4 linked regions of the Homo sapiens genome follow. The protein of the gene in region 1 interacts with the protein of each later gene in a pairwise test. Each region holds a gene or a part of one and is shown in the gene's direction. Other genes may lie near its edges. The genes, in order: KRT14, CTTNBP2, ABI3 and PUS10.

Region 1 (7,555 bases):
TGTATGATTCTTATGTAGTATGTTCACATTAGGGGAAGCTGGATGAAGGATACACAGGATACACAGGAACTCTCTGTCCTATTTTGTAACTTTTTCTTAAAGGCTAACATTATTTCATTTTTTTTTTTTTGGGAGACAGAGTCTTGCTCTGTTGCCCAGGCTGGAGTGCAGTGGTGCGATCTTGGGTCACTGCAATCTCTGCCTCCCAGGTTCAGTCAATTCTCCTGCCTCAGCTTCCCGAGTAGCTGAGATTACAGGCGCTTGCCATGACGCTCAGCTAACTTTTTGTATTTTTTAGTAGAGATGGGGTTTTGCCATGTTGGCCAGGCTGGTCTCAAACTCCTGGCCTCAAGTGATCTGCCATTTTGGCCTCCCAAAGTGCTGGGATTACAGGTGTGAGCCACTGTACCCAGCCAAGTCTAACATTATTTCAAAATAAACATTTTTTAAAAAAAGAAGCTGGGTGTGGTGGCTCATGCCTGTAATGCCAGCAGTTTGAGAGGCTGAGGTGGGAGAATCGTTTGAGCCCAAGAGTTTGAGACCAGCCTGGCAACATGGTGAGACCTTGTCTCTACAAAAAAGTAAAAACTCGCTGGGCATGGTGGCAGTCCTGGCTACTTGGGAAGCTGAGGTGGGAGGATCCCTTGGGCCCAGGAGATTGAGGCTGCAGTGAGCTGTGATCCCACCACTGCACTCCAGTCTGGGCAACAGAGGGAGACCCTGTGTAAAAAAAAAAAAAAAAAAAAAGTGGATGATGTCAAGTACGGACCCAAGACCTGAGAGTTCCGTGGCTCCCTGCCATCCAGTCCCTGGTGACTTGACGTGTCACGCTAAAGGCTGTTCCCAGAAGCCTTCCAGATTGGGCCGCCCCCACATCTCATCTCAACCATCTATCTCTCCACCCAGTTTTTACTATTGCTTTGCAAGGTGACAAGCACCCAGTCTGTTATGCGGTATAGTGGGTCAAATAGGGTTCCTCCAAATCGGGTCCACCTGGGACCTCAGAATGTGCCCTTATTTGGAAATAGGGGTTTTGCAGATGTAAGTAAGGTAAGGTTTGAGATGAGATCCTACTGGATTAGAGTGATTGCTAAATCCAATGAGTGTCCTACAAGAGACTGAAAAAGACAGAGATGAAGACTGTATGAAGATGAAGGCAGAGATAGGGCGACGCTGCCACAAGCCGAGGAACTCAGGGAGGCACCAGAAGCTGGAAGAGGCAAGGAAGGGCTCTTCCCCAGAGTCTTCAGAGGGAGTGTGGCCCTGCCAACACCTTGATTCAGGGCTTATGGTTTCCAGAATGTATTCCAGAGAGAATACATTTCTGTTGTTTTTTTTTGAGACGGAGTCTTGCTCTGTTGCCCACGCTGGAGTGCAGTGGCGTGATCTTGGCTCACTGCAACCTCTGCCTCCCGGATTCAAGTGATTCTTCTGCCTCAGCCTCTCGAGTAGTTGGGACTACAGGCACCTGCCACCACACCTGGCTAATTTTTGCATTTTTAGTAGAGATGGGGTTTCACCATATTGGCCAGGCTGGTCTTGAACTCCTGGCCTCAGGTGATCCACCTGCCTTGGCCTCCCAAAGTGCTGGGATTATATTCGTGAGCCACTGTGCCCAGCCAGTTGTTTTAAGCCATCAAATTTGTGGTAATTTGTTATGGCAGCCCTGGGAAACCAATCTTACTTGTCTGTGCTTTTCTTCCATTTGTTTGTATGTTAAGTAATGTTGATGTGCATTCCTGCTTCTCTTTCATGCTGGGACCTTCCTAAAGGCAGGGATCGTCTCTTCCAGTAGGCCATGCACTCCAAGGGCGGGGGCTGTCCTGAGGTTTCCTCCTTCCTTAGGATGCCATCTCCTGGTCCCCAGCACAGTCCTCAGCACACAGTGTGGGCTCTGGAGGTGCTGCCTGGCCCTGCCAGCTTCACCTGTTTGGATTGGCAGAGGGCTCCCCCATGCAGGGTGGTGCAGGGAGACTCACTAACCACAAGAGGTCCTGCCCGGGGCTCCTCCTTTACCCCCCTCCTTTTGGGGCAGGCTGGAGGGAGGGTCAGGTAATGGTGCTCACACAAAGTCTGCCTAGAAGTCCAGAGGTGGGGGGTACTCTGGGCCTCAGCAGTCAGGACTGACAACCCTTTAACCCCTGATGCCCCAGAAAATGCCCTCCCTTAAAATGTCTGAGTACCATGCTTCTTTGGCATCAGGGAGGGGAGGGGAGTGTGGTGTCCTCTAAGTCTGCTCCCTGCTTGGCTGGGTTGTTTGCAGCTCCTTGGTCACTGAGTCCTTGTCTGCAGGGGTTGGCCTCAGGCTCCAGGTTGGGTCACGGTTCTAAGACCGGGTGTGGGGGATCAGGCTTATATTCCATGCTAGGGTTCTGGTGTTGGTGCGTGGGGTTGGGGTGGGACTGCAGAAGTGCCTTTTAAGATTATGTGATTGACTGATCTGTCATTGGTTCCCTGCCATCTTTATCTTTTGGATTCCCCTCGGAGGAGGGGGAGGAAGGAGTTTCTTTTGGGTTTTATTGAATGAAATGAAAGGGAAAGTAGAGCTGTTCCTATGTCCCGGGCTCCGGAGCTTCTATTCCTGATCCCTGCATAAGAAGGAGACATGGTGGTGGTGGTGGTGGGTGGGGGTGGTGGGGCACAGAGGAAGCCGGTACTGGGCTCTGCACCCCATTCCCGCTCCCAGATCCCTCTGGACACAGCATTTTTCTCCAGTGAGCACAGCCTCCCCTTGCCCCACAGCCAACAGCAACATGCCTCCCAACAAAAGCATCTGTCCCTCAGCCAAAACCCCTGTTGCCTCTCTCTGGGGAAATTGTAGGGCTGGGCCAGGGTGGGGGGACCATTCTCTGCAGGGAGATTAGGAGTGTCTGTCAGGGGCGGGTGGAGCGGGGTGGGGCCCTGGCTTACTCACATCCTTGAGAGTCCTTTGCTGGCAGATTTGGGGAGCCCACAGCTCAGATGTCTGTCTCAGCATTGTCTTCCAAGCTCCTAGGCCACAGTAGTGGGGGGCTCCCTTCTCTGGCTTCTTCTTTGGTGACAGTCAAGGTGGGGTTGGGGGTGACAGAGGGTCCTGCTTCTCTTCTAGGAGCAGTTGATCCCAGGAAGAGCATTGGAGCCTCCAGCAGGGGCTGTTGGGGCCTGTCTGAGGAGATAGGATGCGTCAGGCAGCCCCAGACACGATCACATTCCTCTCAACATGCCTGCCGGGGTCTGTGGAGCCTAGGGGCTGATGGGAGGGTGGGGTGGGGGCCGGAAGGGTTTGCTTTGGGAGGTTGTCTGGGAGATTGCTGAAGTTTTGATATACACACCTCCAAAGCAGGACCAAGTGGACTCCTAGAAATGTCCCCTGACCCTTGGGGCTTCAGGAGTCAGGGACCCTCGTGTCCACCTCAGCCTTGCCCTTGGCACAGCCCAGCTCCACTCCAGCCTCTACTCCTCCCCAGAACATCTCCTGGGCCAGTTCCACAAGGGGCTCAAACGAGGGCGCCTGAGCTGCCCACACTAGGGATGTTCTGGGGGTCTGAGAAGATATCTGGGGCTGGAAGAATAAAAGGCCCCCCTAGGCCTGTTCCTGGATGCAGCTCCAGCCACTTTGGGGCTAAGCCTGGGCTATAACAATGCCAACGAGGCTTCTTGCCATACTCGGTTTACAAAACCCTTTCACATACATTGTCGCATTGGATTCTCAGAGCTGACTGCACTAAGCAGAATAGATGGTATGACTCCCACTTTGCAGATGAGAACACTGAGGCTCAGAGAAGTGCCAAGCCCTGGGTCACAGAGGCGTAAATGGCAGAGCCAGGACCCACCTGACTCCAGGCTGTTTCCTGGCCTCCATGAGGCCACCTGCCCTATGGTGTGGTGGATGTGAGATCCTCACCATAGGGAGGAGATTAGGGTCTGTGCTCAGGGCTGGGGAGAGCTGCCTGGATTTCTCTTTGATGGGGATGTTGGGGTGGGAACCACGATACACCTGACTAGCTGGGTGTATTTCAGGGATGGGACAGACTTCTCAGCACAGCATGGGAGGTCAGGCCTGGGAGGGCCCCCCAGACCTCCTTGTCTCTAATAGAGGGTCATGGTGAGGGAGGCCTGTCTGTGCCCAAGGTGACCTTGCCATGCCGGTGCTTTCCAGCCGGGTATCCATCCCCTGCAGCAGCAGGCTTCCTCTACGTGGATGTTAAAGGCCCATTCAGTTCATGGAGAGCTAGCAGGTAACTAGGTTTAAGGTGCAGAGGCCCTGCTCTCTGTCACCCTGGCTAAGCCCAGTGCGCGGGTTCCTGAGGGCTGGGACTCCCAGGGTCCGATGGGAAAGTGTAGCCTGCAGGCCCACACCTCCCCCTGTGAATCACGCCTGGCGGGACAAGAAAGCCCAAAACACTCCAAACAATGAGTTTCCAGTAAAATATGACAGACATGATGAGGCGGATGAGAGGAGGGACCTGGCTGGGAGTTGGCGCTAGCCTGTGGGTGATGAAAGCCAAGGGGAATGGAAAGTGCCAGACCCGCCCCCTACCCACGAGTATAAAGCACTCGCATCCCTTTCCAATTTACCCGAGCACCTTCTCTTCACTCAGCCAACTGCTCGCTCGCTCACCTCCCTCCTCTGCACCATGACCACCTGCAGCCGCCAGTTCACCTCCTCCAGCTCCATGAAGGGCTCCTGCGGCATCGGGGGCGGCATCGGGGGCGGCTCCAGCCGCATCTCCTCCGTCCTGGCCGGAGGGTCCTGCCGCGCCCCCAGCACCTACGGGGGCGGCCTGTCTGTCTCATCCTCCCGCTTCTCCTCTGGGGGAGCCTGCGGGCTGGGGGGCGGCTATGGCGGTGGCTTCAGCAGCAGCAGCAGCAGCTTTGGTAGTGGCTTTGGGGGAGGATATGGTGGTGGCCTTGGTGCTGGCTTGGGTGGTGGCTTTGGTGGTGGCTTTGCTGGTGGTGATGGGCTTCTGGTGGGCAGTGAGAAGGTGACCATGCAGAACCTCAATGACCGCCTGGCCTCCTACCTGGACAAGGTGCGTGCTCTGGAGGAGGCCAACGCCGACCTGGAAGTGAAGATCCGTGACTGGTACCAGAGGCAGCGGCCTGCTGAGATCAAAGACTACAGTCCCTACTTCAAGACCATTGAGGACCTGAGGAACAAGGTGGGTGAATGGGCAGCAGAAGGCACCATTCCAGCTAGCTCCTTCTGGGAACAATTCATGCCCCAGGCCCCTGAGACCTTAAGATTTCTCTATAGGACAGAGTCCACCCCAGATCCCTTCTTTCGAGGTCTTGGATGCCCTAAGACTGATCAGTGAGAAGATGCTTTCCCTTCCCCAGCCTCCTCATCCCCTTCTGATCTCAAATCCTCAGACCATGTGAGATCAGTGATTCCTATCCTTACATTTTTTAGAGGAAGCAGTTGAAGCTTCGAGAGGTGCTGTGACCAGCTGCAGGTCACATAGCAAATTAATGGCAGAGCCAAGGCTGGGGCCCTTGTGCCCTACCTTCCAGCACAGGAGGCAGCTACTTGTTCTCCAGCACAGGGGAGGAGTGAGGCTCTAACGGGACCAGGCAAGACATCCAAACCACTCATTAGCTCACTAGTCTGGGCTGTGGCTGCCGCCGCCCATAAGCCTTGGTACAGGCTGGTCCCTCCCCACAGCCAGGCGGGCATGGAGAGCCTGCAGAGACAATTAGTGTGGTCCCTTGATGTGCCCTGCACAGAGAGAGCCTGGCAGGCTTGTGCCCTGACTCTAGCCCCCTCCTCCCTGCTCCCACATTACTTGGGAGCCCTCCCTGCTGGAGTCTGTTGGGCTCTAATGACTTGCATGGATTAGGGAAATTCAATGATGAGGTGGGGAAATCCAACCAGACTCAGGGGCCAATATATCTTCTTATTCTTCCCCTGAGTCCTCTTTTCTAATCCCCTGTGTTAGTTGGGTTTTATCTCTTGAGAAAGTTCCACTTGAAGTCCCATGGCCTGTGAGCTTGAAAAGGAATGTGCATATCTGCAGAGGACTGGCAGGGCTGGCTGATGCAGACAGAAGAGAGGTCAGCTCAGGAAGGAGGGCTAGGGAGCCTCAGATTATTCTCCTCACCTGGAGGTGGGGAACTTGAAGCCCCAAGACCCATTAGGTTTTGCAGCAAGACACTGGCAGAATTGGGACCAGAACTCCTGGGCTTTCGATTCTAAGCCCGGGGCTGCATCTACCCCCTCTGTTGACCATGAGTTAGCAAAGTCTTAGGACAGGCCTGGGGCATCTGTTTTCCTTTGGGCTGCTATGGTCAAGTTTTGTGGGGGAAAAGGGGGATTCAGGCAAGAACATGAAGCAAGAGCTTAATGTAGGCTACAGTGAAGTCCAGCTTGTGAAGTCCATTTGACAAATTACCTGTGCCTTTTCCATCCTGCAGATTCTCACAGCCACAGTGGACAATGCCAATGTCCTTCTGCAGATTGACAATGCCCGTCTGGCCGCGGATGACTTCCGCACCAAGTGAGTTTGAAATGGTGGGCCAGAACATCCAGTGTCCCCAGAGTAGGGCATTTTTGGAGCAGTGTTTCCCAAATAGAACTAGCCAGTACCAGGATAGGTGCATGAAAACTCCCTGGGGTGCTTATAAAAGAATAAGACTCTTGGGCCCCACCCTTGGAGTTTTGATTCAGCTATTTATAGCAGGTTACCTGGGTGATTCTGGTCCACAGCCAGGTTTCAGAACCGCTGCTTTAGGGAGAGGCACTTTCCACTTCCCCAGCTGCCCTTGAAGTATAGGAAGGAATCATAGTTGGAGGACTTCTGCATTATTTGTTGGCTGAAGCTAGAAGTGCAACCCCCTCCTGATTTCTGCAGCAAGATGAACTGCCTTATCCCCAGCCCGCAGGAATGTTCATATCTGAGCAATCAATGGGCACTGTGTTCAACCACGCCATTTTCAAGATTGGCTCCTTAAACCACCCACAAGGCACCAGCTCTGGGAGAAGCTGCAGGGAGAAGAGAACAAAGCCCTCGCTGTGATCAGGATGGGTGTCTCATACCTTTTCTCTGGGGTCATTCCAGGTATGAGACAGAGTTGAACCTGCGCATGAGTGTGGAAGCCGACATCAATGGCCTGCGCAGGGTGCTGGACGAACTGACCCTGGCCAGAGCTGACCTGGAGATGCAGATTGAGAGCCTGAAGGAGGAGCTGGCCTACCTGAAGAAGAACCACGAGGAGGTGAGAACTATATGGAAAAGTCAGCTTAAAAGAAATGCAGGGAGGCTGGGTACAGTGGTGCGTGCCCATAGTCCCAGCTACTTGGGAGGCTGAGACAGGAGGATCACTTGAACACAGGAGTTTGAGTCCAGCCTGGGCAACAAGGCTAGACCCTGTCCAAAAAAAAAAAAAAAAAAAAAAAAAAAAAGAGAGAGAGAGAGAGAGATTGAGAGAGAGAGAGAGAAGGGAGAGTCGAGATAGAATTGTGATGGTGGGAGGGCAGTATTCAGGCCTAAGGAACACCAATCCGCTGCCATGGTGGAACTCCTGACTGTGGACTGTCCCTGGCTGTGCAGGAGATGAATGCCCTGAGAGGCCAGGT
Region 2 (7,676 bases), on another chromosome or scaffold:
TGTCATCACATTTCCAGGTGATTTTTAAATAACCCCAACTAATTTGGATTAATAAAAAAAGTCTTGATGGACAAAAAAAAACAGCCACAAACTATTGTCATCAAGTGAGATTTGAGGCAGGGTAAGGTGAAATTTACATCTCAAAAATTCCAAATGTATTTGAAACTCTATTAATTTGGTATATGACAATTGATTATGATTGTCTAGGAAGTGTTAATGTATTGGTTTATTTCACAATTTGACACAGGAGAGTTACACATGTATAGCTTTTCTCCTGCTTTTTGTATCCTAAGTAAATCCTCACTGAGTCAATCATAAATGCCATATGCATATTTATTAAAATCAAAAGATAACATCTTTAGTGTTCTTATTAATTCTTCGAACACTAAATTTCCTTTTGTGTTGAACAGTGCATATCCCCAAGTGAAAGAAAAATCTCAGCTGTGGTTTTGCAGCTGGATCCACACTTCTAATCAGAGGAGAAAAGGGCCTGATCTCACAACATATTTATATAGTTTTTAAACTTTCTAAGATAAATGAAGCTCCACTATGAGTAATGCCTAATGGTATAAACACCCCTGCTTTAATGATTGCCTAGTAACTATATACTGCAGGCTTGTGAGTTTGCTAAAGAGGCTGAATAAACAGAAATATTCAGGTCCATTTCCAATTCAGGTGGATAAGGGGCAAGAGCAGGCCAGATTTTTTTTTTTGTTAAAATTGTTTTTCCATAATGGTATTGCACTAAAACATCTTTCTGCACTAAAATTTACTCTTGTAAATGACTTCTGCAGATAAGCATCCAAACCAACAACTAATGATTTAAAATGTAAAAACCATGCAAGAGAATGGAACCAACACTACTTCATTGTTTGGTATTAGCTGGTTTCTGTTCTTAGAGTGACTGTACCGGGGGATGATTTTCTTAATGTGGCTCTAACCTTGCAGTCAAATCTTATATTTGTACATTATTTCAGCAATTGAATGAACAGATACAGTTCCCAGTTAAAGGTTGTATTAAAAGGGGCTGGGAGTGATTATGATAATTATTTATGTTTCGCTTTGGCTTGCTTCCTACATAGCAGATTTAATTCCCTAATTATGTTTTGCTTTAGCTTAGGTAAAATTAGCTTGCATTCCTTTGGCACACACCAACTGCAGTTGGTGGAGGAGGCCTTCCAAAACCATAGATTGTTGACAAGAGTGGCTAACTAGATTAGAATTAAATTTACTGAGTAAAATCCACAAAAAGCCTGAGGCACATGTAGCTAATGACATGTGCTATGAGGGAATGTAGTTAGGTCATAGGAAAACTTGTTTCTGGCAATGGACACTCAGAGCTCATCTGCGGAGTTCCTGACGTCAAGATTTGGGGCTTCCTAGGTTGGTCACCATGCTGCAGACAGGGACAAGCATGGTCTGCAATATTTAAATTGTATAACTATAGGCTTGAGGATACAGTCAGAAATGATTTGCTACTCAATAATTTTGTCATTTGGCAATACTAAGACATGATGACATATGGTTTGCTCTTTGGAATTAACATAAATGTTGTCATTTGACTGAAATAAATAATTCTCTTACTCCATGACGGAAAGAGTTTTAGGTTCTGTGTATATTCCTTTATCTTTTCACATGGAAGGAAGCATCCTGTTGTATCATATGTATAACTCTGGGTTTTTGGTTTAGTGGGTTGGAGGATATGGCTGATGAAGCCAAGGACATGGTTTAATCAGAAAACCACTTGGCTCCCAAACATCTGTCTGCATTCCCACCTTTAAGAACTCATTTCCCTGGTCATTTCACCCTTAGAGAGTGTGCTATAGCTCAACACAAATACCTCTATTCCAGGGTTTGGAAAATAATTACCCTCAAATTCTTTAGTCAGTGGGTCATCAGCATCGTTATGATCCAAAAAAAGGATGTAAATAATAGTTTTCTCTATTTGCAATATATTCAGTATTACTCCTTCCATTTTAATGCCAAAAGGAATTTACTGATTAAGACTCATGATTCATTTTTGTTGTAGGGATTTATTTTCCTCCTGTTTATACTTCTATCTTTCTCCTTTTTTACCCTGCCTTTCAGTAATTTTCACTGTAACCCTGGGATATCTTTTATTTTTATTATTAATTATTATTATTATTTAGCTGTTTAATGAGGCTTCAAAAGATTTAATTTCTGGAGCCATCAAGTCAATACCCTTTCACATCTATTTGCTTTGACTGTAATAGAGCCTGCCTTTGTGCAAAGAAAGTCTTAGAAAGAGTTAATTTGCAATAGTAGCAGAGACTAATTCTCAAGAGAGAATTGAAACCAGCAAGTGTCCTCCTGGTGGAGAAGCAGCCCCAGGCCAGGCTACTAGTGAGGAAGTTAACTCCTAGTGTGCCACTTCTGTGCAGTAGGTGAGATCCTCAGCCAACCTTCAACAGTGCTGGTTTTAAGGTGGAAACAGAATGCTGTCAATTCTCCTTCCCAGGTACTGGATTTTGGTGGTTAGAGAATGTGGTGTCCTGTGATTTTTATCACTGTTTTATTTATTTTTTTTCCATTTCACAAAAACAAACAAAAAATGATGGGTGGGGGTTTGCGGTGGGGGGGGGGGGTGGGCAAGGACTGATTTCCTTGTAACATGATCCTGCTTTAATTGTATTTAGGTGAATACAAGCTAATTTTTTCCCAGTGATTTTTTTTTAAAAATTGGGCTGCATGTATAAAAGGGATTTGCTTCCCAGAGATGGTGTCATTTCATATTTCTAACTCTTAACCCTGAGTAAAACTTATTATTATTATTTTTTCCAGAAGTTTGCCAGTTAATTGCTTGAGAAGTATTCAACATCAGAATCAAGAAAATTGATTGCCTTGCAATGTGTGGAAGTGCATTTTGAAAAGAACAAGGAATGCCCTTGGACTTTAAATTTTTACTATCAGTTTGACATCTAACTTTTACTGTCCAGTGGTTTTCTTTAATCTTAAAGAAATCTAGTTATTCTAATATTGAGCAGTTTTAGAGAGTATACTTAATAAAGGAAAGTGGTATAATGAACAGGGATGGATATTAAAGGGATAAGTGAGGGAGTAACTATCAGAGCCAATATAAATAAATAAATAAATAAATAAATAAGTACCTGTACTCACAGGATAACCTGGAGATGATTTCTAAGCCTCTGACTTTTAGCCCCAGAGTTCTAGGTAAAGTTCTTTCTTGACCTCTCTTCTGGGAGGGAACTTTTCACAGTTTATTAATCAATCCCTTTCAGGGTCTTTGCAGAAAAGATTTTCTCTGCCCTGGTTTGTGTCATATTTGGGTCTAATTTGGAAAGTGGAGCAATTAAAGAGTCAAAACCTTTCATTAGGAGCCTGCCATTAAAAAAAGAAGAAAGAAAGAAAGAAAGAAAAAAGGAAAAAAAAAAAAAAAGCTTTGATCTGTAACCCTTGGACTGAACATTCTAGTCATTCATCTTCCAAAATTTCAAGTGCAAGATTTGGTTGTGGTTTGATTTTACGTCTTTGAGACACAGCTTGAATGTCTCAATTTGATTTTATGCATTCGACACATTTTTAGGGATCTGGTGATTTGGGAAGGGCTGTACCATATGGTCTTGGTGAGGTGATAGATTTTCACATTCTGGAAATTGGCAGCAAAGGGTAGGAACTGAATTAGATGTGGAAAGGGAAGATTAAGCGTTTGGGCCTAATTCACTCATCTCATGAAAAATCTTCTGAGACGTGTAATTCCCATAAAATCTATTTTTACAAATACGGCTTTTGTTTGATTGTTTTTGGTGTATATGTACACGTGTCCTCACACGTAGGGAGTAATTTTTTTAAATTCTCTCAAAAGTAGAGGACATGACATTTAGCTTTTAAAGCTATGACATTTAACACTTCTCAGTTAGTCCTTCAGGAGAGATCTCAGACTTAGGGGGGTCACAGAATATAAAACAGCCCGCTACACATTCCCTGAAAAGGAGATTGTATAGAAAGTTAGGAGCTGAGGGGCTGGTGCCACGTTCTAAAAGAAAACAGGACAGACAAATCGTTTTCATCTGAGAATTGTTTTTGGAGAAACACTAGAGTCAACGATAGAATAAATCAGAGCCAGGTGTGTATATATATAGGGAGGATAAAAACACCCTGGCGGCAATGAAATTTAAGAAAGAGCAATTTAAGAAGAAAGGGGTGCCCTGTGTGATTCCTCGCGGTGGGATAGAGGGAGCTGAAGTGTAGGATTTTCCCTGATCTTTCAGAGAATTCAGATTCAGGAGGCCTGACATTTAATCTGGTCTGTGCACGGATTTCTCCGGCTTGGTTGGGGTTCTGCGGAATGCAACGCTCCTCGGGCGCTTTCTGCCTTCACCTCTTCCGTGGTCTTTGATCCCCAGTCCCCGCGCAGGGCCGCAGCGGAGCCAGGTCGTGCGCCCATTTCTCGCACCTCCACGAGCCCGCGGCTGGCGCCACCGGGCGCGGGACGCGGGGCGCGGGGCGGGACCGAGGCGGGGCGCTCCGGCGCGCAGCGGGTTAAGCGGCGAGGGCGGTGGCGAGGGGCGGAGGGAGTGCCGCGGCTCCCGGCTCCCGGCTCCAGGCGCCCGCGTCCCGGACAGCAGCGGGTTAAGTGCCGCCCGCGCGGAGACGGCTGAGTCCGGAGCCGCGGCTCCGAGCTCGCATTCGGATCCGCTAGAGCAGGAAGATGGCGACGGACGGCGCGAGCTGCGAGCCCGACTTGTCCCGGGCCCCGGAGGACGCGGCGGGGGCCGCGGCGGAGGCGGCGGTAACCGAGTTCCCGGGGCGGGCGCGGGGCTAGTGTAGACGCGGGCCGGGGGCGGCGCCGGGGTCCCAGCCGGACCCGACTTCGCACCCCCGGGGCGTTCCGTAAGCCCGGGACTCTCCGGTGCCCCTTCATCGGGGCCCCCCTTCCTCGGGATGCCCACACGGCGGAGGCCGCGGGGGGGAGCGGAGCGGCCACCCTGGCTGGGGATCCCTCCTGTCCCTTCCGCGCCCCACGGGAAGCGGCCCCGGGTCGCCCGGTTCTCCCAGCTCCCTGTCTGCGTCCAGTGCGACCCCTATGCCCACTCCCTCCGCTGCGGTCGCTTCTGGCCGGGGGAGAAGGCTGGGACGTGTTTCCTGGCGAATTTGACCCCCCATTGTTCACCTCTCGCTGCGCGCGTGGTTGCCAGCGCGTGTCTCGGGGGTGCCTGGTACCGCTCAGCGGACCCGGGAGAGCAGCTTGGGGGAGGTGGGCCATCGCCCAGCAGGTGTGGGGATGCCCATTGTGTGCATCTGGTCCTGTGCCTTCGGGAGGCCCACTGGGAGAGGGCCGTGTCCAGATGTGGGCGCTGCTGCCGCTGAGGCCAGCGCTTTAGGTCCTAGCAGCCTGCTGCCCCATTACTTGGTGGTAGTGATTGGGGTGGGGTGGATGGATTGGTTCTTCCCGAGACGATGCTCAGGAGAGGTGGAGGTTCTGCACCTGGTTTCAAGACATTGTTCTCCTTCTCTGGAGTCTAGAGGCCGAATGCGCTACCATTCTTGACTGGTCCTTACTTTCACCCCCTTAATATTCCGGTGTAGAGACTCGCTGGTGGTTTCCAGCCTCTACTTTGGGGAAGGGCTGGACCCACATTTCCTGGGTGGAAAAGGTTCTCGGTGTTTGGGAAGCAGCTTCGCAGGAGCTGCAAGGAGCTGCAGAGAAAGGCAGATCTGGGAGCGCCTCCCACTCTTGGCCAGATCTGGCTGCTCCCGCCGAAGGATGGGGTGGGATGGAGCGAGCGGGGCGTGGACGCCCCCCTCTTCCTATCAAGACCTGAGCAGAATCAGTGCAGGAGAGGGCAGGGCCGGGCGTAAACAGCGGGGGCCGCTTTAACTTCCTCCCACCCTCTGGAGGTAGGGCTTTCTGGAGAGGGAGAGGAGAGATGTGGAGGAAGGTACTTGGGGTGAGAGGAGCTGAGCCTGGCAATGGAAGGAGAAACGGGGAGGAGGACTGCTAATTTCCACTTGTAAAACTGGCAAGTTTTGATTTGAACTTTTGGGAAAATTGAGTTTCCATTCTTTGCATAGAAAATGAGAACTTTAAGATTTCAAACGAAACCTGCCCACTTATGTGAATCAGCTCCCCTCTGTGGGGCACAGTAAGGAAACTAGCTATTGAGACAAGGCTCTCTGGCAAGTGGAAATGATTTGGTGCCTTCATCCCCAAAAGGTGGGAAGGGGAAGGACGAGGAAAAAGAAAGAGGGTGTGTGTGTGTGTGTGTGTGTGTGTGTGTGAAGGGGAAGGACGAAAAAGAAAGAGGGTGTGTGTGTGTGTGTGTGTGTGTGGTGTGTTTCTTGTTCCCCAGAAAGGTTGAATTTGTTTACTTAATCCACTCAGAATGGGTTTCTGTTACCCTCAATATTTTAATCACCTGACAATTAACCCAAACACAAACATCTGACTGATGGTCTGTAGAGCTGATATATAGTTTTGTTTGGTTAGATCGTAAACAAAACCCAGGACGCCAGGCAGATTTCTGTGTTAACAAGGTCAGTGTTCCCTCTCTTCTGTTTAAAATGTTCAAGTCTGATTTTCACTGCTGATAGTTGGGGATTTGATAATTTCACCCTTGTTAATGGGCAGAGCCATGGAAAATCTGCGAAAGTGAACCTTCTTTGCTATTTCCATAGAATCCTTTAGGGTTGCGAGATGCAATAAGGATTCTTCATCTAGTAGTTTAAAAACCAGTAATAATTTCTGAATTTTTAGTAAAATTTTGATGATGGCTTTTGTAGTAAATTGGGCCTTTTATTTTAGTTCTCCAAATAGTTTTGACTTAATAAGGCATGGTTCTCTCATATCAGCCGCTTGACCTATAGACTGATTTTTAAGTGAAAGGAAAGCTAGTGTAGAGGAGTGATATGTGTCATCACAATTGCTCCTTAAAAATCAGAGGCGTTTTATGCATTTTGGGTTCTTGTTGACTGATATTTTTTATTTTAGTGAACAATTCACTTTGCATTTTGGAGATTTGTTGACTTTCAAATTGGTTTACATATCGTGCATTTTTATGTATACATTTGGCAGTAAGGAGTCAATGGAAGCTCTAAAGCAGTAGGCTATTTTTGAAAGTGAGTGTTTTCACTAAGCTTTGACTATTTAGATTGTTGCTTAGAAACAAGCTTAATTTATAGTTTTCAGTTTAATATCATTTTTAGTGGAATGTTTTAAATTTAGTTTGTGATCCTCATTCTTAGCTGTTTAAATCCTGAAAGCATCCCAAGTTTAAGGCTGGGTAACAGCTACATTATTCAATAGGATCATATTAATAGTCTTTGCCGTGAACCGTGCCGGGAAACCTGGGCTATTTTCAGTGCCTTAGCCAAATGTGATGACTTTTATAGGCCATATTGCTGTTTCCACTCTGAAAATAACTCCTAATGGATAAGGCAGTATGGAAAACGAAATCTTCATGCTTTTTATTGTCACCAAAGAATTTTGGAATGAAAGGAAAATGGAGATCTTTTTAGAGCTATATTTGGGAAGCCAACCAACATTCTTGTCATTCTGAGCTTTTCTGGAGCAGCTAATAGACAAGAAGTAGGTATAAAATTTGTTGTCATGGTGGCAGTGACAAAGAAAAACTTGGACAATGATTTAAAATGCACGACAGTGATGTTAAACAAATTAACAGCTGAACTTGAAATTT
Region 3 (7,000 bases), 7.6 Mb from region 1:
AGATGCCCAGAGCTGGGCCCAAGCAGACACTTTTCCTGTTTGGGCCAACAATTCCACATGTTCGTTTGGGGAGGAAACTGTACAGAAGAAGGCAGGCAAGCTAAGAAATCTGGGTGGAGATGAAGGAGCAGTCACTGCTCAGTTCTGGGCCTGTTTCCTCATTTAGTAAAGGAAGGTCCTGAACTAAATCAAAATCTGCTCTCCTGTCTGGTGTTAATATCCTGGGTTGATTTCTTTGCCTATTCAATCTTCTTGGTGACCTATGCTGAGGAGATGTAAGTTTTGGTGCATATGCTAATGAGATGTAAATGACATGCAAATGAGCATCTCTTTCCTGCTGTTGGAAAAGAAAGACAAGGAGGAGAGAGCCATCGCATGGGCTGCCCAGAAGGTTCTGGCTCAGGCTCCATTAGAGGCTCCCAGGTGTCTCAGACCTTGCTCTGAGAGTTTGTAGGTCTGTTCTCCATTGACAGGCCCTGAGGGGCACCCGAGGGCTCAAGCAAGGGGACCCCAGTGTGCAGCCTTGCCTGTTGGCCCACTGGCCCTACTCCACATTCACCCTGGACTTGCCCCCTACCTGCCTTAGAAAGGTACAGGCTAGAGTATGGCAACTCCATGACCCGACCAGAGATGAGGAAGCTGCCCGGGGAACCAAAAGACCGGAGAAGTTTTGCCCTAGCCCCCACTGCCTGATCTGGGACCAACAAAAAAAAATTTCTTGGCCAGGCGCAGTGGCTCACGCCTGTAATCCCAGCACTTTGGGAGGCCAAGGCAGGCAGATCACCTGAGGTCAGGAGTTGAAGATCAGCCTGACCAGCATGGAGAAACCGCATCTCTACTAAAAATACAAAAAATTAGCTGGGCGTGGCGGTGCATGCCTGTAATCCCAGCTACTCGGAAGGCTGAGGCAGGAGAATCGCTTGAACCCAGGAGGCGGAGGTTGGGGTGAGCTGAGATTGTGCCATTGCACTCCAGCCTGGGCAACAAGAGCAAAACTCTGTCTCGAAAAACAAACAAAAAAAACTTCTTGCCTTCAGCCACTGCCTGCTTACTCCTCCTGCACTGACTGGCAGTGTGACCCTGGCCAGTGCCTGGCACAGTGCCTAGAATACAGTGGGAATGTGCCCAGAGAATGTTTGGGTTCCCATTCGACCTGCTAATTAACTCACGAGTGCATATTTATGAAGAATCTTTTGCGTGTTGGGTGTGATTCCATGACGGGATACAGGATGAAACAGACAAGCTCCCTGCTCTCATGACACTTCCGTTTAAGGCAAGGGGGCGTAGATAACGAAAAAAATACATAGAGAATGTTTGATACTGCTAAATACCATGAAGAAAAGAGAACAAGGTAAATATGATAAAGAGGCAGTGAAGGCGTGGGCTGGGGGAAATCTTAGTGTGGTGAAGGAAGGTGTCTCTGAGAAGCTGAGGCCTGCTAATAAGGATTCTGAAAATAAGTACAGCACATGCCAAGGCCCCGAGGCAGAAACAGTTCAGCTTGTTCAGGAACAGAAGCCCAATGGCCAATGTGGCTGAAGGGGAGTGTGTGAGAGGGGGAGTGGTGAAGTTGGATTAAAGGGGATGAAGGTGAAGAGAAAGGCAGGAGCCAGACCTGGAGGGGCTGTACGTAGGCCACGGTTAGAAGCTTGAATTTTATCCTCAGGGTATTGGAAAGCTATTAGAGGGAATGAATGAATAAAGTCCCTCTGTTCTGGGCCTCAGTTTCCTTATTTGAGTTCCCAGACACCAATCTGCAGACTGGAGCTAAACAGTCACATGGAAAGCTTTTTTTTTTGGTTTGATTTTGAGACAGGGTCTCACTCTGTCACGCAGGCTGGAGTGCAGTGATGTGATTTTGGCTCACTGCAACCTCCGCCTCCCGGGTTCAAGTGATTCTCATGCCTCAGCCTCCTGAGTAGCTGGGATTACAGGCAGGCACCACCATGCCTGGCTAATTTTTGTATTTTTAGTAGAGACGAGGTTTTGCCATTGTAGCCAGGCTGGTCTCAAACTCCCGACCTCAAGTGATTTGCCCGCCTGGGCCTCCCAAAGTAGTGGGATTACAGGTGTAAGCCACCGTGCCTGACATGGTTTGTTGTGTTTAAAAATGTCGGCTGGGCACGGTGGCTCACGCCTGTAATCCCAGCAGTTTGGGAGGCTGAGGCAGGCAAATCACCTGAGGTCGGGAGTTTGAGACCAGCCTGACTAACATGGAGAAACCCTGTCTCTACTAAAAAAAAAAAATTACAAAATAAGCTGGGCGTGGTGGCACATGCTTGTAATCCCAACTACTTGGGAGGCTGAGGCAGGAGAATCGCTTGAACTCGGAAGGCGGAGGTTGTGGTGAGCCGAGATCGCACCACTGCACTCCAGCCTGGGCAACAAGAGTGAAACTCCATCTCAGAAAAAAAAAAAAAAAAAGAATGTCTGCTCTAGCCAGTGTTGCCTTCCTCTTTCCTTTCTACTATTCACCCCCACTCCAACCCCTAAAAGGACAGCCTGTTACTGAAGTCTTCAGGAGGGTTGTACTATCATCTGTACTCAGTCCTCAGCTTAACTATTTGAGAATGGGTATCTTTCCCTCCCTTTGCATCCATTCCCCAAGGCTGCAGATTCACTTTTTTAAAGTGAATTTAAAGTGATGTTGTAGCAAGTTCCTCTTGCTACATCATTCTGCTGGGAGCCACCTCAAACATCTAAGGGTTGCTGCTCTCTCCCAATCCAGCCCCTACTTTCCCTATATCCTCTCCCATCCCACCCCAGCCAGCCAAGGACCCAGTGGAAGATGCTGGCCCTTAGGCCAGGGCTGTGTGTATTTCAGGCCACAGACAAGCGGAAGGCGCTGGAGGAGACCATGGCCTTCACTACCCAGGCACTGGCCAGCGTGGCCTACCAGGTGGGCAACCTGGCCGGGCACACTCTGCGCATGTTGGACCTGCAGGGGGCCGCCCTGCGGCAGGTGGAAGCCCGTGTAAGCACGCTGGGCCAGGTAAGGGGCGTGGGGCGTGGGAAGGCATCTTGTGTCAGGCCTCAACTCTTCAGCCCGACTCAGACATTTTCTACATCAAAAGTTCCTTCCTGCTTTCCTCCATGTCCAAATGCCCAACTCTACAGCAGAAGGTTGGCACTTCCCAAGCTTTTTGGACCTCCTTATCTCTGTGGCTACGCTACAAATTCCCCGAAGGCAGAGCTTTTTCTTTCTCGGAATTATATCCTGGACATGAGAAAGTGTTATCTACCAATCACAGCAGCGCCCTATACAGGAAAGAAGCAAATGAACCCTGTTTGCATCTAAATACAAGCAGTGCCCTCATAAATATCCCAGACCCAGGGTGCTAGCTTGACAAGGTCATCTTCAGCCCTGGAAGCACAGCCACCACTATACAGTATACACCCTCCACCCCGCCACAGTGTTCTAGCGCACACACCCTCCTCCTTCCTTCCTGGATCCTTGACCGAGGAATTGCCCCATAAAGCACATGCACAGACCCAGCCACACATTTGGCCTGGCCTGTACATCACCCACATGTTCAGTGGGTGGGGTGTGTCTTTTCCTCCCCCGCCGCAGACCAGAGTTCCCACCCTTTCGAACTGTAGGCTTTCTCCATGGAACATTCTGAGAGGAAGTCAATTTACTTATTTGTCCCCCAAAGGGGAGAGCTGATCCAGCCACCATTCTCTGCCACCTCCATATTCTCCCCCTCTGCTCCGAAGTCAGCCGGGTGCTTGTCTCCTCCCAGCATCCCTAGGGATGTTGTGTTTTCTCTTTTCCTCCTGTTCCTGCACAGCTAATAATAACCCATACTCTCTTTCCACCAGGAAGTTGCTCCAAAGTGGCTCCATCCTTTCCTGCTACTTTTCCCAATTGCTATGTAGCCTGGTGGGGGGCGGGGGGCGGGGGGCAGGGCCCTCTTTTTCTAGACCTGGCTGCCTCCCCCCCCCAGCCCAGTCTTTATCTTCTTCCTCCTTAGGGGGAAGGGTGCTGGACACAGACCACCCCTCTCTGTCACCTTGAACCCTGTCATGCAGATGGTGAACATGCATATGGAGAAGGTGGCCCGAAGGGAGATCGGCACCTTAGCCACTGTCCAGCGGCTGCCCCCCGGCCAGAAGGTCATCGCCCCAGAGAACCTACCCCCTCTCACGCCCTACTGCAGGAGACCCCTCAACTTTGGCTGCCTGGACGACATTGGCCATGGGATCAAGGTAGAGAGAGGGGCCCTCCTCTTTCCCTCCAACCCACCCTCTCGTGCCTTGTGGCCCCTTTCCCTCCAGAACCCCAGTTCTGCAAGTTTTGTCCCCACTTGCCACTCCTTTCTTTCCCCGCTCCCTGAAACCACCACTCTGAGCTCTTCTCCCTCTCCCTAGATTTTGTAATCCCTCCCTCCAAAACTGGTCTGTACCATCCTCGGAGGATCTGCTGAGTGTGAGATCCTGAGCACCCCTCGCCCCCCCGCCCTGCCCCTGTGGGCACCGGGCGTGTGGGAAGGGGAAGAGGGGGAAGGGAGGATGTCAGGGTGTGCATGAGAATGGCTCCCAGCCACATGAGAACAGCAACTTCCTCTGTCTGGGGGTTTGAGGTCACTGCACTGAGCAGTCACCCCAGAGCTGCTGTTGGTGAGAAGAAGCGGGGATACAGCCACACAAAGGGGACTTGGTGAAGGGAGGGGAGCATGGCGCTGGCGTCTTCTCAGCCTATGTCCTTCTGCGAGGTCAGAAAGGGCACGCACTCACACCCGTCCCACCTTCAATTCCTGTCTCCACACCTTAACATTTCTGTATCAAAATGAGCCCCTTGATATCCTTAACTTATCAGCCCCCCTTAAAGGGGAAACGACATTCTCCCCTTCAACCACCAGGCCTCCTTCCCACCAGTAGTTCTCTGTTGTCCAACTTATATTTTTTTTTTTTGAGATGGAGTTTCGCTCTTGTTGTCCAGGTTGGAGTGCAATGGCACGATCTTGGCTCACTGCAACTTCCGCCTCCCAGGTTCAAGTGATTCTCCTGCCTCAGCCTCCCAAGTAGCTGGGATTACAGGCGCCCGCCACCATGCCCGGCTAATTTTTTTTTTTTTTTTTTGTATTTTTAGTAGAGATAGGGTTTCTCCATGGTGGCCAGGCTGGTCTTGAACTCCTGAACTCAGGTGATCCTCTTGCCTGAGCCACCCAAAGTTCTGGGATTACAGGTGTGAGCCACCACTCGCGGCCCAACTTATATTCTTTGTGCTTCAGCTCAAATCTCTTTTGTCTTGCCCCTGGTGAAGCCCATGGGGTAACACTGTACCCACCCCTTGGGGAAGTCCCATTGGTAACAGCAGTTCCCTCTTTCATGTAGGCGTGCACCCTGTCATTTGCGCATCCCCTCTAAGTGGCCTGGGTCTTGCTCCTCTCTGCCCTAACTCCCCAAAGCCAGTTCCACAAATCTTCGAAAATGAAAGGTGGGACACTTCTAAGTGTGATGTGTCCTCTCCTTTCTCCGCCCCCTCCTCAGCCCGATCAAAGTTAGGGACCACCAAGCCAGGGCCCCAGCTTCCTGGGCTCTGAGATGGTCTGGGGGAGGGACAGGGGTGCTGGGCCCACTCAACCCGCTGTGGCTGTGCAGAGGAAGTGGCTGTGGGCTTTGGTAGAACTGAGTCCCAGAACCCAGGCAATGACAAGGGGGTGGGGTGGGGGAAGTGTAGGAGAGGGGCCTGAGAAGTGGAAGTGGGAACTGGCTATGCCGGGCTCTCCCTCCCGGTTCCCGTCCGCCCCTCCTCCATTTCCTCTTGGGGATGAGGGTGGAGGGAGGCCCCTCACCCCAAATGTAAGCCCTACCTCCCGCTCCCTCGCAGGACCTCAGCACGCAGCTGTCAAGAACAGGCACCCTGTCTCGAAAGAGCATCAAGGCCCCTGCCACACCCGCCTCCGCCACCTTGGGGTGAGGCCTCGCCGCGACGCCAACTAGCCTAGCCCTGCCCCGCGCGACCCTGAAACTCTCCTCCCCCAGCCTCGCCACCCACCCCTGGCGCCCCCGGGTGCTCAGGCCGTCATGCTGGATGCCTGGCGCCAAACCTCCCCCTCGGCCACCTGCCCTTCCTGCTCGCACCCGACCCCTGCTGGCCAGAAGCCTTCCTCCTTCCTCCTAATACCCACTCCCTGCCCCCCGCCAGGAGACCACCCCGGATTCCCGAGCCAGTGCACCTGCCGGTGGTGCCCGACGGCAGACTCTCCGCCGCCTCCTCTGCGTTTTCCCTGGCCTCGGCCGGGTGAGACCTACAAGCCCACGTGGGTGGGTGGGGGGTGGGAAGTGGCTTTTGAGAGGGGCCACCTGCCAGTGGTCATAGTGACTCCTGGGCTTGAAAGGACCCAGTTACTCCTGGGTCACACGTGCAGGGCTGGGGTCAGGATTGGAGGGGTGGGGCCAGTTGGGGATGCTGCATTAGGGAAGGCGTGTCCGCCAACCGGGCTCTCTGGTGTTCAGCAGCGCCGAAGGTGTCGGTGGGGCCCCCACGCCCAAGGGGCAGGCAGCACCTCCAGCCCCACCTCTCCCCAGCTCCTTGGACCCACCTCCTCCACCAGCAGCCGTCGAGGTGTTCCAGCGGCCTCCCACGCTGGAGGAGTTGTCCCCACCCCCACCGGGTAAGGAGGTCCACCCTCTTCTTCCCAACCGTGGGGTCGCTTTTCTGCCTCCTGCCACTCCCCAGCCCACCTCTCTTGGATCTGCCCCGGCCAGCCTCAGTGAATGCCTCCTCCAAGGAGCGCAGCACAGGGGCGAAAGGAGACAGAGGAAGTGAACTAACATAACTTAGCGCCTGCTGTATACCAGACCCTGTGTTCGAAGATTCTCATCCATTTTCTCATTTGAACTTAATCCTGGCCGGGCGCGGTGGCTCACCCCTGTAATCCCAGCAGTTTGGGTGGCCGAGGCGCGCGGATCACCTGAGGTCGGGAGTTCGAGACCAGCCTGACCAAAATGGAGAAATCCGGTCTCTACTAAAAATACAAAATTGACCGGGCGT
Region 4 (7,955 bases), on another chromosome or scaffold:
TCTACTAAAAATATAAAAATTAGTTGGGCATGGTGGCATGCACCTGTAGTCCCAGCTACTCAGGAGGCTGAGGCAGGAGGACCACTTAATCCCAGGATGTAGAAGCTGCAGTGAGCCATGACTGCACCACTGCACTCCAGCCCGGGTGGCAGAGTGAGACACTGTCTGAAAAAAAAAAGGAAATTAGACTCAACAGAAAAACCTATCTAGCTATAAAACTTTGATACAAAACCAGAATAGTACAAAGAAAAAAAATTCAATTTCACCTAGGAACATGTATGCAACAGTCTCACAATATTAGAATAGAGTTCTTTTTCTTTTTGGAGACAGGGTCTTGCTATGTCACCCAGGCTGGAGTGCAGTGGTATGATGACAGCTCACTGCAGCCTTGAACTCCTGGACTCAAAGGGATCCTCCCACCTCAGCCTCCCTAGTGGCTAGGACTACAGGCACACACCACTACACCTGGCCAATTTTAAAATTTTTTATAGACAGAGTCTTGTTATGTTGCTCAGACTAGTCTTGAACTTCTGGCCTCAAGCAATCCTCCTGCCCTGGCCTTCCAAAATGCTAGGATTACAAATGTGAACCACTCCAACTGGTTTAGAATAGAATTTGGAATTGCATATCAGAAAAAAATCAAGACTAATCAAAGTTCATTGAGAAATGCAAGGATGGTTCAACAATAGAAGGTTGATACAATAAACATTTTCTCTAATCTTGTCTTCTCACTTTATTTCATCAATTTGATCTTCAATTACTGATATCCTTTTTTCCACTTGATTGAATCAGCTATTGAAGCTTGTGCGTGCATCACGAAGTTCTTGTGCCATGGTTTTCAGCTCCATCAGGTCATTTAAGGTCTTCTCTACACTGTTTATTCTAGTAAGCCATTCATCTAACCTTTTTTCAAGGTTTTTAGCTTCTTTGCGACGGGTTAGAACATGCTCCTTTAGCTCGGAGAAGTTTGTTATTGCCGACCTTCTGAAGCCTACTTCTGTCAACTCGTCAAAGTCATTCTCTGTCCAGCTTTGTTCCGTTGCTGGCAAGGAGCTGCGATCCTTTGGAGGAGATGAGGTGCTCTGATTTTTAGAATTTTCAGCTTTTCTGCTCTGGTTTCTCCCCATCTTTGTGGTTTTATCTACCTTTGGTCTTTGATGTTGGTAACCTACAAATGGGGTTTTGGTGTGGATGTCCTTTTTGTTGATGTTGAAGCTATTCCTTTCTGTCTACTAGTTTTCCTTCTAATGGTCACGTCCCTCAGCTGCAGGTCTGTTGGAGTTTGCTGGAGGTCCACTGCAGACCCTGTTTGCCTGGGTATCACCAGCAGAGGCTACAGAACAGCAAATATTGCTGCCTGATCCTTCCTCTGGAAGCTTTGTCCCAGAGGGACACCTGCCTGTTTGAGGTGTCTGTCAGCCCCTACTGGGAGGTGTTTCCCAGTCAGGCTACACGGGGGTCAGGGACCCACTTGAGGAGGCCGTCTGTCCGTTCTCAGAGCTCAAACACCATGCTGGGAGAACCACTGCTCTCTTCAGAGCTATCAGACAGGGACGTTTAAGTCCACAGAAGTTTCTGCTGCCTTTTGCTCAGCTATGCCCTGCCCACAGAGCTGAAGTCTATGGAGGCAGTAGGCCTTGCTGAGCTGCAGTGGGCTCCTCCCAGTTCAAGCTTCCTGGGCGCTCTGTTTACCTACTCAAGCCTCAGCAATGGTGGATTCCCCTCCCCCTGCCAGGCTGCTGCCTCGCAGATTGATCTCAGACTGCTGTGCTAGCACTGAGCAAGGCTCCATGGGTATAGGATCCGTCAAGCCAGGCATGGGAGAGAATCTCCTGGTCTGCTTGTTGCTAAGACTGTGGAAAAAGCCCACTATTTGGGCAGAAGTGTCCCATTTTTCCAGGTATAGTCTGTCACGGCATCCCTTGGTTAGGAAAGGGAAATCCCCCAATCCCTTGCGCTTCCTGGGTGAGGTGATGCCCCGCCTCGATTTGGCTCACCCTCCATGGGGTGCGACCAGTGTTCAACCAGTCCCAGTGAGATGAACCAGGTACCTCAGTTGGAAACACAGAAATCACCCGTCCTGTGCGTCAATCACGCTGGGAGCTGCAGACCAGAGCTGTTCCTATTCCCACATTTTCATACTAAAGCGAAAATACATACAATGGTCTCAACAGATGCAGAAAAGCCATTCATAAAATTTAATATTTCTTCACAATAAAAATCTGAGCAAGGTAAGGGCTGGGCATAGTGACTCACACCTGTAATCTCAGCACTTTGGGAGGCCTAGGTGGGCAGATCACCTGAGGTCAGGAGTTCAAGACCAGCCTGGCCAACATAGTGAAACCCCATCTCTATTAAAAATACAAAAATTAGCTGGGCGGAGTGGCACGCGCCTGTAGTCTCAACTGTCCGGGAGACTGAGGCAGGAGAATCACTTGAACCCAGGAGGTAGAGGTTGCCATGAGCCAAGATTGCGTCTCTGCACTCCAGCCTGGGAGACACAGTGAGACTCCATCTCAAACAAAAATAAAAATGAAATAAAAATAAAATAAAATAAATCTGAGCAAGGTAGAGAGAGAGAATTTTGACAAGATATCTATCAAAAACAAAAAGCAAACTTCACATTTAACAGTAAAACTTCAGAAGCACTCCAGTGGAAGTCAGGACCAATACAAGGATGCTAGCTTATCTGTAAATGACAGAACTGGCTACACAAAACTAAAGAGAATTTCAACCAAACCATCAGAACTAATTAAGAGTTTGAGATTATGCTGTACATAATATTTACATTAAAAAAAATCAATAGCATTCTGCCATACCAGTTAATAACCAACTGGAAAATGTAAAAGGAAAAAAGAAAGCCCATTTGCAACTACTACAGCAAAAATAATCTAGGAATAAAAAATAAAATATGGAAAAAAATTTCATGGAGGTAATTATAAGTTTTTTGTTGTTGTTGTTGTTTGAGATGGAGTCTCCCTCTGTTGCCCAGGCTGCAGTGCAGTGGCGTGATCTTGGCTCACTGCAAGCTCCGCCTCGTGGGTTCACGCCATTCTCCTGCCTCAGCCTCCTGATTAGCTGGGACTACAGGTGCCCGCCACCGCACCCAGCTAATGTTTTTTTGTATTTTTAGTAGAGACGGGGTTTCTCCGAGTTAGCCAGGATGGTCTCGATCTCCTGACCTCGTGATCTGCCCGCCCAGTCTCCCAAAGTGGATAATTATAAGATATTTAAGGCAAAAAGATAAATTCCCACCAATTGTAGCTTATACAATATTCATGGAATAAAAACTTACTTGATCCATAAATTCAGCTCAGTTCCAATAAAAATCCCAGTAAGTCTTTTTATAAAGGACTAAGTGTAAAGAGCGCAATTACAAAGAACAGCAATGTGTGGAAACTCTTGACATACTACATATCAAGACTTATAAAATTCTGTAATTAAGATAGTGTGGTGCTAGTAGAAAGTCAGAAAATGCCCAAAACAGAACTACATATTTAGGAAACCTTGATATGACATAGATGGCATTAAAAACTAAGAATAGACTACTCAATAAATGGTGCTGCGACAATTAGTTACCTATATGGAAAAAAAAATTAGATTTTTATACAAAGTCAGTTCCATGTGGATTAAATGCAAATGAAAAAACCGGAAGATTTAAAAGAAAACATACAGAAAAACTGTCCTGATCTAGGTAGACAGGATTTCTTAACCAAGACAAAAAGCATAAACAATAAAATATGACAATTTTGGCTGTATTAAAATCAAAAACATCTGTACAAAAAATTGAACATAAATATAAAGAGGAGAAGCCACACAGTGAAAAATATTAGCAAAATGTAGTAACAAAAAAGGATTAGTTTAACAATACTCTTACAAATTGGTAAGCAAAGATAAAGCCAATAGAAAATTGGGCAACAGAAAAAACAAAAACAGATACAAAAAATAATATATAAATAGTAACATGTAATTAGATATAAAATATATATTATTGTTACATTGTTAAGTTTTAGATATAAAATGCATATAAATAGCACAAACCTAAGTACTAAAATATAAAAACATTACTGGGTATGCGAAACACCAAATAAGGACAATAGTCACCACTATAAAGAAGAATGGGAGAGTTTAGCCGTCTTTTATTTTGAAAAATTCGACATAAGTCTGGCAAATGTTAACACTGTTTAAAGTTGAGTAGTGAATATATAGGTATTATCTTACTCTCTACTGGTCTCTGTGTTTAAAATATTTCACGATAAAGTGGGAAAATGGTTAATTTTACATAAAAAGAACTTTAACAGATGCAAAAAATAAAACCTCTCTCATTCGACAAGCAGCCTAAATGGGGAAAAAAGAACCCACTCAAAAAAAAGGTAGCAGATAATGTCACCGTGGCTTACCAGCCTAATCAAACTTATTACTTGTTATGTATATATCCTTATTAAACTAAGTCGTTACTGTGTTAAAGCATTTTAGTGTTTAAATAAAAGATTTCAGAATACAGCAGAAATACATTCCAATATGTTGGGGTTTTTACGCTTAGGAAAACCTACAATAGTAGGTGATTTGACATTTGAATCACACCTATCTGAATTAAGATGTCCAGCACTACCAAACAAAAGCCACACGAGGCCACGAAACACTCCCAACTCTGCATGTTTTAGCCTTTTTAAAGTCCTAGAAACCAACTGATACTGATTAAAAACCAAACAAAAAAAAAATACAGGCCTCAGAAAAATACACTATTTTGCACACAAAGTCCATCCATAGGCCTCAGATCTAGAACTCCTGCTTTAAAGTTGCTTCTCCAATCTCGATCCGAAACACTGGCTGAGTTATGCTGGAAAAGAATGCAAAGTGTACGGGGCTTGAGTTCCTGTTGCGTAAAACCTTTCCGGCTTTCAGCAACTTCTCGAGAGGTTAACACCTTTAAGGAGAGACTTTGCTCCCTGTCGATGCCGTGGCTGGACAAATGCCGCTCTCAACTGCTACAGACCAAAGTCTACGCTTTAAAGATAGAGAAGCCATTCTGTCAAAGTGAAAACAGAAGCGGTAGGTAGGAAGCCGCCCCCCTTTCTTTCAAGCACAGAGACCCAGAGAGACGCCCAGGAGCTCCCGAAAAAAACGTTGCTGATTAGAGCTGCCGGGTCAGAAACAGCTGTGAGACACTAAAGTCCCCACTGGTAAGCGCCCCAGCTCCACCTCGGCCCCTATCCCCAAGGTTGGGTATTGGTTAAAGGGGGGAAGGGAATACCTCCACTAACAACCGCTACAACCGCCTCCTGCCAAGTCCCCGCTCGGGCCCACTAAACTCACAGCCTGAAGAATCCCACACTCACTGGAAAGTGGGGCCCGGTCCTGGTCCCGGTCCGGCTCCCGGAATTCGGCGGGTCTCCCAGGGTTTGGGGGGAGGTGGCGGCTGGGACGCCATCTCCTCCGCCTCCTCTCGGCTCCCGCTCCTACCCCTGACTGTCCAGGCCCGCGTAGACCAGCACCTGGAGCGTAAGACACAACGGGCAGAACACCGAGCCGTCCACCCCGCCCACCCTTGCAGTCAGGACAAGGCTTGAGTTACTTTGCCAGCTGAATCCATACAGCGGGAGGATGCCACTAATTTGTAGGAAGAAACACGCTCTTTGTATTTGCCCCAGAAAGAGCTGCCTTTCTAAACCTCAGGGTAAAGGCTCATCGATATTTCTGGTAGCGGCTACAACTCCCTAGACGTCGGAGTCCCACCGAGGCTTTTCTGGGAGTGGACCAGTCGGGCTGGGAGTAAAGCCGCACGCACTCCTTCGCTCGTGGGGGAGGTAGGGTGAGGTGGCAAACCAGGCAGTTTTTCGGATTTCCTCTACAAACAAGAAGGGAGAAGCTCACTTAGTCCTAGCGAGAGCGGGCTGGTACTTTTGTTCTAAAACGCACGTTTCCTCGGGGAACAGAATTGCTAGACGCAATAGGTGCGTTGTCTTTAGTCTTCCCTCTTCCCTTCGAGGGCCGGAAGGGGTTAAATCTCAGGCTCCGGCGTCTGGGGAGAAGGTGAGGCGGGTAGGTAAGAGGTGAAGGAGTGCAGACTGGGTGCAAAAGAGGTGTGGCGGGAGAGAGTTCGTTTCTCTCCTGCTGGAGCGGCTTTGTTAGCAAAGGAGGGGTGAGTGGGAAGTTTGTTGCACCTGACCGAAGGGGGAAGGGCTTGCTTGGCGAAAACTGAGGCTTGAGGTTAGATCTCGGGATGAACTTTTCAAGAGTCCACAGTAGATTCCAGAGCTGAATGTTTCAGAAGCCCAGTGAAGTGTGATCACCTCTTTCTCCGTAAATCCACACCCCCAGCCCCACGCCGCGTTACGAATGACACCCTTCGGTAGGGAAATGAGTTTTAAAAGATCTTAGGATATGAGACTCAGTCTGGTCATTTCGCTAGTTTTTCTTATACCCTGCCCCTTTTCTCGTTTTCGATGACTGGTTTTTGTAATCGTCCAAGAGGTGAAAATAAAGTCCTTCCTCTCCTCCAGTAAGCCAGAGACTGGGCTAGTTATCCTTGATTTGGGGAGGAGGGATTCAGTCCTCCTAGGGAGCCTGACACATGAAAGGCGGCTTTGTAGCAACTTGTTACAGAGTTATTTCTATAAAACAAACACATAAACGAAAAGCAAACATCTTGAGGGTAACCAACACTGGAAAACTTACATTGTGGAATGCCTTTCTCAGGGCTTGCTTTCAAACATAATAAATCTAATATGGACAACCGATTTCTAATATCTTATGAAATCCTGGCATTTAATTATCTCACGATGAAAAAACCAAATTTAAGACGTAACGTATTTTCTCCTTTTAATGTTAACATTCTTGAGAAGTTGATAAATTGTTGGTAGGTGAAAATGATGTTGAGAGGTTTGTAAATTCATAGCTCGTTTATTAACACACATTCAAAAGAGGTCTTTTTTGGGGTCTATTTTTAGACCTCTTCAAATTACTCAGGACTGGAAGTTTTGTAATTCTCATCAATCAGGTTTGGGAACTTCTCAGAGCCAGGAGATTGTAATGTGTCATTTATTTACTTTGCATGATACCTTTGTTCTTGTGAACTTACTGGAAAAATAAACATTGTCTTCTAGCCATGGAAAATAAAATAAATTTTAATATAGCTATTTAAGTATCGAGGGAAATCTTCATTAAGTGTCCTTTTAAAGTGCTTATTGATTTATTGGAAGAGGGTGTATTTCTTCTGTCTCTTTTTGAGTTAAATGTTACTTCTGAATTAAGTAAAATTCTTGACCTTAACTAATGGAGAAAAAATAACTTAGAGTAACAGGTGAAACAGAAACAGTTTCTCTGTGTATGTAGTCAGAGATGCACTGTAAATGCTTATATTCGCCCCTCACAGCATCCGATCTCTTCTCTGCATCAAAGTAGATTAAATGGGCTGGGAAAAGGGATCCAGATCACTAGTAAATAGTAATGACTTGACCTTGACCACACAGATCTTATTTATTTATTTATTGAGATGGAGTCTCGCTCTGTTGCCCAGACTGGAGTACAGTGGCACGATTTTGGCTCTCTGCAACCTCTGCCTCCTGGGTTCGGGCGATTCTCCTGCCTCAGCCTCCTGAGTAGCTGGGACTACAGGTGCGTGCCACCACGCATGGCTAATTTTTTGTATTTTTAGTAGAGATGGGATTTCATCGTGTTAGCCAGGATGGTCTCGATCTCCTGACCTCATGATCCTCCTGCCTCAGCCTCCCAAAGTCCTGGGCTTACTGCAACCTCCACCTACTGGGTTCAAGTGATTCTCCTGCCTCAACCTCCCGAGTAGCAGGGATTACAGGTGCACACCTCCACACGTGGCTAATTTTTGTATTTTAGTAGAGATGGAGTTTTACCATGTTGGCCAGGCTGGTCTTGAACTCCAGACCTCAAGTGATAATGCCTGCCTCGGCCTCCCAAAGTGCTGGGATTACAGGCGT

What was found.
Region 2: the proteins of KRT14 (region 1) and CTTNBP2 interact in binary tests that used the Homo sapiens proteins (3 or more experiments, as listed by UniProt).
Region 3: the proteins of KRT14 (region 1) and ABI3 interact in binary tests that used the Homo sapiens proteins (3 or more experiments, as listed by UniProt).
Region 4: the proteins of KRT14 (region 1) and PUS10 interact in binary tests that used the Homo sapiens proteins (3 or more experiments, as listed by UniProt).

What each region holds. Positions count from the first base shown.
Region 1 is NC_000017.11:41,583,896-41,591,450, reverse strand, and holds the start of KRT14 (keratin, type I cytoskeletal 14), read left to right. Parts: upstream 1-4,555; 5' UTR 4,556-4,616; coding exon 4,617-5,141; intron 5,142-6,393; coding exon 6,394-6,476; intron 6,477-7,037; coding exon 7,038-7,194; intron 7,195-7,529; coding exon 7,530-7,555. UniProt on the Homo sapiens protein: The nonhelical tail domain is involved in promoting KRT5-KRT14 filaments to self-organize into large bundles and enhances the mechanical properties involved in resilience of keratin intermediate filaments in vitro.
Region 2 is NC_000007.14:117,870,430-117,878,105, reverse strand, and holds the start of CTTNBP2 (cortactin-binding protein 2), read left to right. Parts: upstream 1-4,664; 5' UTR 4,665-4,690; coding exon 4,691-4,771; intron 4,772-5,722; exon of another isoform or gene 5,723-5,880; intron 5,881-5,885; exon of another isoform or gene 5,886-6,169; coding exon of another isoform or gene 6,170-6,196; intron 6,197-7,676. UniProt on the Homo sapiens protein: Regulates the dendritic spine distribution of CTTN/cortactin in hippocampal neurons, and thus controls dendritic spinogenesis and dendritic spine maintenance.
Region 3 is NC_000017.11:49,213,707-49,220,706, forward strand, and holds part of ABI3 (ABI gene family member 3), read left to right. Parts: intron 1-2,824; coding exon 2,825-2,992; intron 2,993-4,032; coding exon 4,033-4,209; intron 4,210-5,833; coding exon 5,834-5,919; intron 5,920-6,151; coding exon 6,152-6,247; intron 6,248-6,462; coding exon 6,463-6,620; intron 6,621-7,000. UniProt on the Homo sapiens protein: May inhibit tumor metastasis. In vitro, reduces cell motility.
Region 4 is NC_000002.12:61,015,236-61,023,190, reverse strand, and holds the start of PUS10 (tRNA pseudouridine synthase Pus10), read left to right. Parts: upstream 1-4,935; 5' UTR 4,936-5,183; intron 5,184-5,339; coding exon of another isoform or gene 5,340-5,431; exon of another isoform or gene 5,432-5,471; intron 5,472-5,759; exon of another isoform or gene 5,760-5,954; intron 5,955-5,967; exon of another isoform or gene 5,968-6,352; intron 6,353-7,955. Other genes in the region: PEX13 (peroxisome biogenesis factor 13), read right to left, coding at 5,340-5,431. UniProt on the Homo sapiens protein: Protein with different functions depending on its subcellular location: involved in miRNA processing in the nucleus and acts as a tRNA pseudouridylate synthase in the cytoplasm.